2 separate regions of the Homo sapiens genome follow, and region 2 is linked to region 1. The links come from fine-mapping of genetic effects on plasma protein levels. Region 1 holds a variant in brackets. A gene starts in the other region. All regions are shown on their forward strands.

Region 1 (4,392 bases):
TAGAATATCTATACGTCTTTCTTTTACTGACATCCTGAATGCTCAGAAAATGCTTCTTCACCATATTTATGTGACTTTATCAAAATATTTGTCTCAGAGCCTACATAACAACACTATTTTAAAGAAAAAATCTTAAAATGGATAGCCTAGTGTTTAACTGTGCAGACCTTCACACCAGAATGCCTGAGTTCAAATTCTACTCCCACCATTTCGTGTCTGTGTGATGTTGGAAAAATCACTTAACTTGTCCGTGCTTCAGTTTCCTCATCTGAAAAAAAAAGAAAAAGAAAAAAAAAAAAGATACAGCAGCAGTTTCTCCCTCAGAGAGTTTTGAAGATTAAAGAAATTAATAAACGGAAAGCACTCAGAATGCTGCTGGGTATATAGGGAATGCTATGTACATGTGGTCTTTATTATTAATGGATCTTGACAGTGGTTGAAAACAAAGTATTTAAATATGGTTTTATCCTTTTCTGTCTAATTATGCAGCATTGGTAATTTTTTCACTGCTTGTGAAAGTTTGATTCATTGCAGAGAAAACCAAATACGTCATTGATAGCTTTAATTATAAACCCATACTCTGTCCACAATAATTTTTTAAAATTAAACATAGTCTCACTTTTCCTACTTTAGTAGACTATGTGAAAAAAAAAACCTTTTGATTGACAAAATGATGACTTTGTGATACATATACAAAGAAAGTAGCCAACAATACGTTGTTATAATTCTTTCTTTATATAAACTTGGTGTCTCTCAGAAAAGCTGAGAGGAGAAAGAACAGCAATCATATATTCGCAGCATTTATTATAGTACCCTTCTTATTTACTATTTCTGGTTCTTGGCATTTGTGTTTGTATATTTGAATTCCTGTCTGGTGTGAGTTCCTTAATCAAATATAGCTTTGTTCCTACTCAACTCCTTTGTGCTATAATCATAACTTGATGTGATTCTTTAATTTGCCTTCAGTTACTTGAAGCTAGCAGAGGTCAGTTCATAAGTTAAAGGAATAAAGTTTTGTTCATATCATAAAAGTGCAAGGTGAGGCTGCAAATGCTGATGTGGAAGTTACAGTAAGTAATCCAGAAAATTTAGCTAAGACAATTGATAAAGAGGGCTATGCTAAACAACAGACTTTGAATATAGACAAAACAGCCTTATATTGGAAGAAGATTCCATTTATGACTTTCATAGATAGAGAGGAGAAGTCAATGCCTGGCTTCAAAGCTTCAAAGGACAGGCTGACTCTCTTCTTAGGGGGTAATGCAGCTGGTGACTTTAAGTTGAACTCAATGCTCATTTACCATTCTGAAAATCCTGGGGCTCTTTAAAATTACCCTAAATCTATTCTGCCTGTGCTCTACAAATGTAAGAACAAAGCTTGAATGACAGTACATCTATTTACATCATGGTTTACTGAATATTTTAAGCTATCTGTTAATACTTACTGCTCAGAAAAAAAAAAAATCCTTTCAAAATATCACTGCTATTGAGAATTCACCTAGTCACCCAAGAGATCTGATGGAGATGAACAAAAAAGTTAATGTTTTTATGTCTGCTAAAAGGACATCCATTCTGCAGTCCATGGATCAAAGAGTAATTTCTACTTTCAAGTCTTTCAACTCTCAAAGGCATTTCTTATTTAAGAAATATATTTCATAAGGCTATAGCTGCCATAAAGAGTGATTTGTGTGATGGATCTGGACAAATTAAATTAAAAACCTGCTGGAAAGAATTCACCATTCTAGATGCCATTAAGAAAATTCATGATTCATGGGAGGAGGTCAAAATATCGACATGAACAGGAGTTTGGAAGAAGTTGATTCCAAAACTCATGAATGAATTTGAGGGATTCAAGACTTCAGTGGAGAAAGTAACTGCAGATGTGGTATTAAATAGAAATAGCAAGACAACTAGAATTAGAAGTAGAGTCTGAAGATGTGACTGAATTGCTGC[A/T]GTCTCATACTAAAACTTGAAGGGATGAGGAGTTGCTTCTTATGAAAGAGCAAAGAAAGTGATTTATTGAGATGGAATCTCCTCCTGGTGAAGAAATCATGGACATTGTTGAAATGACAATGCATCCGGATATGAATGTAGAGCCAGTGGCCTGCTTTTGTCTTCATGACTTTCTTGCTTTGGCCCCAAGGTTGTGAGCAGGGGCTATGTAGCCTCTAGTCTTCTCAACCTCTCCTGGTGTGAACATTGAATTATAATAAACTGAGATGAGGGTTATATGAGCCCCATCTTCTCAGCATACCTCAGCACTTCCTCCCTCCATGAAAGGTAAAAGCTGTCTTTTTTTAAATTAAACTTTCTATATTGAACAATTATAGATTCACACATAGATGTAAAAAATAATTCAGAGAAACCCCATATATCTTTTATCTAATTTCCCCCAGTGGCAACACCTTGCAAAACTTTAGTATAATAACAGAATTAGAATATTGAGGTTTATATAGTTAAGACACAAATATTTTCTATCAACACAATTAACTCTTTTGTTGCCTTTTTATATTTATATATTTACTGAGACAAGGTCTCACTTTCTTACCCAGGTTGGATGGAGTGCTGTGGCCCAATCTCAGCTCACTGCAACCTCCACCTTTCAGGTTCAAGCAATCCTCCCACCTCAGCCTCCCAAGTAGCTGTGACCACAGACACACACCACAACACCTGGTTAACTGTGGAAACCACTAATCTGTCCTCAATTTCTATAATTTTGTCATTTCAAAAATGTTGTACAAATGGAATCATAGAGTATATGACATTTTTGAATTCATGTTTTTACTTAGCAAATTCTCTGGAGATTCATCCAAGTTTTTCATGTATCAGTAGTTTGTTCCTATCAATACCATAGTATGAATGTACAACAGTTTGTTTAACTATTCACACATTAAAGGACATCTGGTTTGTTTCTAGTTGTTGGCCATTATGAAAAATAAAAAGGCTGCTATAAAAATTTACATGCAGGATTTTTTTGTGAGCATAGGTTTTTATTTCTTTGAGATTTATGCCTAAGAGTATAATCACATAGTTGTTGCAGTTTTAGTTTAAGAAACCACCAAACTGTTTTTCAGTGTCTGTGTAATTTTACATTCTTTCCAGAAATCTGTAAGGTACCTGTTGTTATGGGCTGAACTGTATCCCTCCAAAATTCATATGCTGAATGCCTAACCCACAACGTGGCTGTATTTGGAGATGGGGCCTTTAGGGAAGTAATTAGTTTAAGTGAGGTCACGAGAGTGGGTCCCTAATCCCATATGAATGATGTTCTTATTATAACAGGAAGCAACACCAAAGATCATTTTCTCTCCTTTTGTGTGAAACCAACCTAATTGTGCCATAGATAGTTTATGGGATAATCATAAAAATTGGCCCTGCCAGTCTTAAAACTTGAGAAACTTACAACTGCCTTATCTGAGTTTCTTTCTCAGGAAACCAACCATCAGGCCTCCCAGATAGTATCAAGAAATTGAAACTTAACCAATCATCACATCTGGGCAATGAGACACCAGACCCCCTCATTCATCGTGATTGTTTCTTTACCTGCTGTAATTATTGGTTTACTAAGGGACCACCTGCTTCCTATTGACCAACTCCTCTTCCTTACCCCTCTCTAATTGCTGTTTTCCTGCACATAGCTACATTCCTTTTCTGCTATATAAACCTTCAATTTTAGTTAGTCAGGGACATGGATTTGAGACTGATCTCCCAACTCCTCTGCTGCAGCACCTGAATAAAGCCTCTTCCCTGGTCATTTTCTGCTCAGTGATTGGCTTTTTGTGTGGTAAGCAGCAGTATCTAGACCAAATCCCAGAGTTCCTGTAACATATACACACACAGAGAAAATGCTTTGCACAGACATAAAGAGAAAGCAACTGTTTGCGAGCCAGGAAGAGAGAAACCAAACTGGAGAGCACCTTGATGTAGAATTTCTAGCTTCCAGAACTGTGAGGAAATACATTTCTGTTGTTTAAGCAACCCAGCCTGCCATATATTGTTATACAGTAGCCCTAGCAAACTAACACATTGTTTCTCTACATTCTTTCCCACTTTTGATATTGCTACTCTTTTATTTTAGCCACTCTAAGAGGTTTATAGTGATATTGCATTATACTTTTATGTGAATTTCTCTAATGACTGATGTTGAGCGTCTTTTCATATGTTTATTTGCATTATATATTTCTTCTTTGGTGAAGTATCTTTTCATGTATTTTGCTCATTTTATAATTGGATTTTGTTTTAACGGGTGAGTTTTGAGAGTTCTTCACTTTTTCCTGATAGCTCAGATATGTGGTCTACAAGTGTTTTCTCTTATTCTGTAGCTTATATTTTCATTCTCTTTAGAGGGTCCTTCACAGAAGAAAGTTTTCAATTTTTATAAACTCCAACATA
Region 2 (4,392 bases), not on the chromosome of region 1:
TCTCTGAGGGCCCCCCTGATGCTAAAGCTAAAATCCCTGGAATGGCTTTCACACCTCCTCCAGGTGGGAATCCTGGTCTGCAGGCTTCTGGCATGGGAGGGTTCCTGCCCAGGCGTGGGGATGGAAACAGAAGAGGGATGACCGCCTGCCTTGGCCTGCTCCTGTCAGCTTCTGTGGGGTCAGCTCTGTCTGGCCCCTGCCTCTCTAGAGGGTCCTGCTGGAGGTGGCAGCGTGTGTGTGTGTGGGCGTGCATGTGTGTGTATGTGTGTGTGTGCGTGCATGTGTAGGCTGTCTTCTGCCTGGATGTGAACACAGCACCTAGGTGACCATTTCTCTAAGTCCATGGCATGGAAGGTGAGCCCACTGGCTTTATTGGAGAGCCGTTGGCCTGGAAGGGGCATGTGGTGGAGGTGTCTGGGGCTCGGGCTGTGGAGGGTCAGTCTTAGTGGGCTTTTACCCCTTCTACTTCCTAGAAGTTTGCTCCTTTTGGGTGTCTGCAGTTGTGGGCATCAGGAAAAAGAGAATGGATGGCTGCAGGGTTAGCTGGGACCAAGGGCTGCCCCCTAAAGCTCCCTGGGCTCCTGCTAATCATCTCAAATGACATAATGGGACAGTCACCCTCTTTGGCTTCGTATCACTCCCTCCCGATGGAAGAAGTTCTCTTTGCACCCAAAGAAGTGGCTAGCCCTGCTCATTCTGCTCTTTCTTCCTCATGGCCCAGGAGGAGAGCTGCTGGGTACCACCCTAGGTGGAGCAAGGACCCCCCACTCTGCCCCAGCTTTCCTGGGACACGATGGCCCTGGCTCCAGTGGCTGAGAGTTAACATTCCCTGGCACCAGCCACTGGCTCCCTTCCCCTGGATGCTCTGTTCCCGATTAGCACAGCAGGCAGGGGCCTGGCGCTCGTCCCTGACCTCGGGGCCTCCAGCAACCAGACCCCTGGCTTTAGCGGATGAGCTACCAATTCTTTTTAAAGCACTGACTGATGCGTGGTATTAAGCAGGGACAAGTTTGCGGCCTCACTGCCCTTTCCCAAAGGACCAGGGTGCCTCTTCCCGGAACACTGTGTGTGCCTGCGTGGAGGGGAAACTGCCCCCGCTTCCCTCTCTTGGGGTGCAAAAATCTGGGCCAGAGGTCCCACTGCGTGGCCTTCCCTATTCCCCTCTGCTTTCCTCCCAAGCCTCCATCTGCCGAGGAGGCCTCTCCCCTTCTTCAGGAGGGAAAGAGGAATGCACAGCAGTTGAGCCAAGACCCCTCCAGGAGCTGCGATGGGGGCGGATGGTGGCTGGGAGCAGAGACACATCCTGCGGGCGGCGGGTGGCACAGGCTGGGACGTGTTCTTAGCCAGTGGCTCCACCAGCTTCCGCGAGGCCGAATCCTGCCCTTGCCAGTCATGAGCTGAGGCAACTCCTTTCCCGTCTGGGCCTCGGTTTCCTGTCAGGCACTGGATGAAATCCCTTCCAGCTCTAAGATTTGGGATCCGAGGGCTCGCTCTCTTTCCCTGCCTGTGGGGTTGGCCAAGCCGGGCTCAGCCAGCTCCGCTCTAAGTTCGTGGAACTTGCCAGCTTAGCCTGGCTCCCGCTTATCGCTGCTCCATCACAGGAAAGACTCCAGTTCCCAGGGCAGCCCCCACTCTTTTTTTTTTTTTTGCAACTTTCACATCACAGACAGCTCAGCTCTCAGAAGACCCAGGGCCACACAGAACAGTGGGATGGGGCAGGGGTTTCTGGAATCCCCTCCCATTTTCACTTGGGTGCTGCCTCAGCACAAATTTCCCAGGCTCCTTTCACAACACACAACACACATACACACAAACACACACACGTGCACACACACACACACATGCACCCACAGATATCACTCCCCAGTGGCTGACTCTTAGGAGGCATCCCTCCCCCACCCTGATTTCTGGGGGTGACTCACAGAAGCAGTGTGCCCACTTAGGAGTCTCTGGGGAGAAGATTCCTGAGGCCGAGAGGGTCCTTGTTCTCTTCTTGCCCTCGGCTCAGCGGGCACCGGGAGAAGAATGCGATCCCGGAGACTGCACCGTCTTAAATATAGCAGCACTGAGACAGTACAATGACAATGGATGAGAACTATGGCATCGGGGACAGGGGGCCAAGGGGAGGGGCCATTCCGTGTCTCCAGCCTGCTGGGCAGCAGCGACAGGTGGAGCTGTCCGCCGCGTCCCCCCACACTGCTCCTCCTCTCAGCTGGGTCCTTTCTGCCCAACCCAAGCCCCTGTTAAAATGGAAAGGAGGGAACGGCTCAGGCATGGTCGTATGGAGGGCAGATCCCGTGCGGCGTTCTCAGCTGTCGGGAGTTCTGATCTGAATTCTGCCCCGGCTGACTGGGTGCCCTGGGGAAGGCGCTCAGCTTCCCTGAACTGACTGCCTTCTGAAAAACGGAGACAGTGAGACTGGGCACCTGGACTTCATGAAGACGGTGGAAGGAATATGACCTAAAAGTGAGTGTTTCGTGCTCAGAAGTTGTCACTGGCTAAAACAGCAATGTGTGGCTCCTGGTCCCTCCACCACTCCGGTAGTTACTACACGGCCCCCGCCCTGACCACAGTCATGTGTGTGTGGTGTGGTGCAGGCAGGAGGAGCTGGGGAGCCACCTACTGCTTCACTGTGCAAACTGCTCAGGCTGCCAGAGTGTCCCCTGAAGGGCCTTCTTATAGGGTAAACGCACCTGACAGGGATAACTGAAGCACGCTCCAAGAATGACCCTGTGTGGAAGACCTGAATATGTGTTCCGAGCTAAGGAATCTGGGGAGTAGCCAACCCGTTTCTTACCTACGATGAATATCTGAGCCCCCGTCCCGTCCCTTCTGGTGGAACGCTGGCCATACAGGGGATTGAGGCCCTGAGTTTTGGGTTAAATGAAGATTGCCAGGTGGAGGTCATTAGGGGATGGTGTAAAGTGAAAATGCTCTATAAACTGCATGCTGTTTGCAAGGGGCTGAGGTTTTCCTGCCCAGTCGGCCGCCACTGGTATGTTGTCCAGCCCGCCGCCCCTGGACCATTTCTGTATGTAAGGCGGTTCTCCTGTCCAGTTCATCACCAGTGGACTCTCTCTCCTGTAGGCAAGCCCCTAACAAACCCCCACGTTCCTTCCTTTCCTTCCTTCCCTTCCTTCTCTCCCTTTCTTTTTCTTTCTTTCTTTCTTTCTTTCTTTCTTTCTTTCTTTCTTTCTTTCTTTCTTTCTTTCTTTCTTTCTTTCTTTCTTCTTTCTCTTTCCTTCCTTCCTTCCTTCTTTCCTTCTTTCCCTCCCCCCCTCCTTCCTTCCTTCCTTCCTTCTCTCTCTCTTTCTTTCTTTCTTTCTTTCCTTCTTTCCTTCTTTCTTTCCTTCTTGAGTCAGAGTCTCACTTTGTTGTCCAGGCTGGAGTGCAGTGGCATGATCTCAGCTCACTGCAACCTCCGCCTCCTGAAACCCCCATGTTCCGTTTGCTGGCTATGGATCTTTTCTTTGGCCTCTCAAACCTGGTGCCTTCCCTACTGAGGTTAATAGGTGTTCGGCACCACACCTCTTCCCACCCTTTGCCCTCTCCTGCCATTCCCTCAGTCTCAATTCTTTCCCCCTCACATTCATTGGCACCTACCCTATGCCAGACCCTAACCTACAGGGGAAGTCAGGCACTTACGACAGGAGGTGATCAGGAAGGTGCACCTGGGTCGAGTCTCAGAGGATGAGCCGGTGAGGGGAAGGCTGTACCGGCCCCTAGCCAGAGAGCACAGCTTCCCTCCCTCACCCCTTCCTGCGACCTCAGGTGGCCACCCACACTACACCTGTCACTCTTGCTGGTGCCTCAGGGACTCCTCACTCGAGAGAAGGAGAGAGAGAGCACAAGTGAACTTTGCAGGCAAAATCTGAATCCCCTGCCCTATTTGAAAACCCCTTTCTAAGCTCTTCTGTGGCTCTCTCTTACAGCATCTTTTGGGAGAGAACATTTCTCTCCCATCTTCTATTGACCCAATCGAACAAGGGCTTTCCAAGACTCATCTTCATACATTTGCTGTGAGGGATGAGTGTGAGTGAATCCGTACGAACAGCAAAGAGGGCTTTGAGCTTCCAACTGAGCAGGAGACAGTCATTTAAACAGGTCCTCTAGCCCCGTCCTCCCAAGGCAATCTGGGGAGATGAATGAAGGTGCACTGGAGAGACAGGGTGCATCCTGGAGTCAAACCGGCTTAGGCTTTCAATTCAGTCCCACCACTTATTAGCTGGATGACCTTGGGGAAGGCACTCAGCCAGTGTGGTTTGATTATCTGTACAGTTGAAGACAACAATTTCCACTTAGCTGTCTCATTGAAAATGTTCAATCAGGCTGGGCATGGTGGCTCACACCTGTAATCCCATCACTTTGGGAGGCCGAGGCGGGTGGATCACC

Direction of the effects. Alleles are on the strand shown, and positions count from the first base shown. The strength of an association depends on the size of the effect and on how common the allele is.
In carriers of allele A in region 1, the plasma level of the protein whose gene starts at base 2,027 in region 2 tends to be lower than with T alone (weak association).

Evidence for each region. PIP is the posterior inclusion probability: the model's chance that the variant is causal. The UK Biobank Pharma Proteomics Project read protein levels with antibody pairs (Olink). The fine-mapping took linkage between variants from a reference panel, not from the people measured, so its PIPs are less certain.
Region 2: it holds the start of MYOM3, and the variant in region 1 is fine-mapped to the plasma level of the MYOM3 protein (UK Biobank, PIP above 0.99).

What each region holds. Positions count from the first base shown.
Region 1 is chr11:21,937,230-21,941,621 of GRCh38, forward strand. The region is part of intron 2 of LOC102723370 (a long non-coding RNA gene); the gene reads left to right. Among named protein-coding and RNA genes, the nearest start is that of ANO5, 250 kb to the right of the region's middle. The variant A/T (reference allele first, on the strand shown) is at 1,954.
Region 2 is chr1:24,110,109-24,114,500 of GRCh38, forward strand. MYOM3 (myomesin 3) reads right to left here and starts at 2,027. Exons shown (of 37, transcript NM_152372.4): 1 at 1,923-2,027. RefSeq lists an enhancer at 2,229-2,737.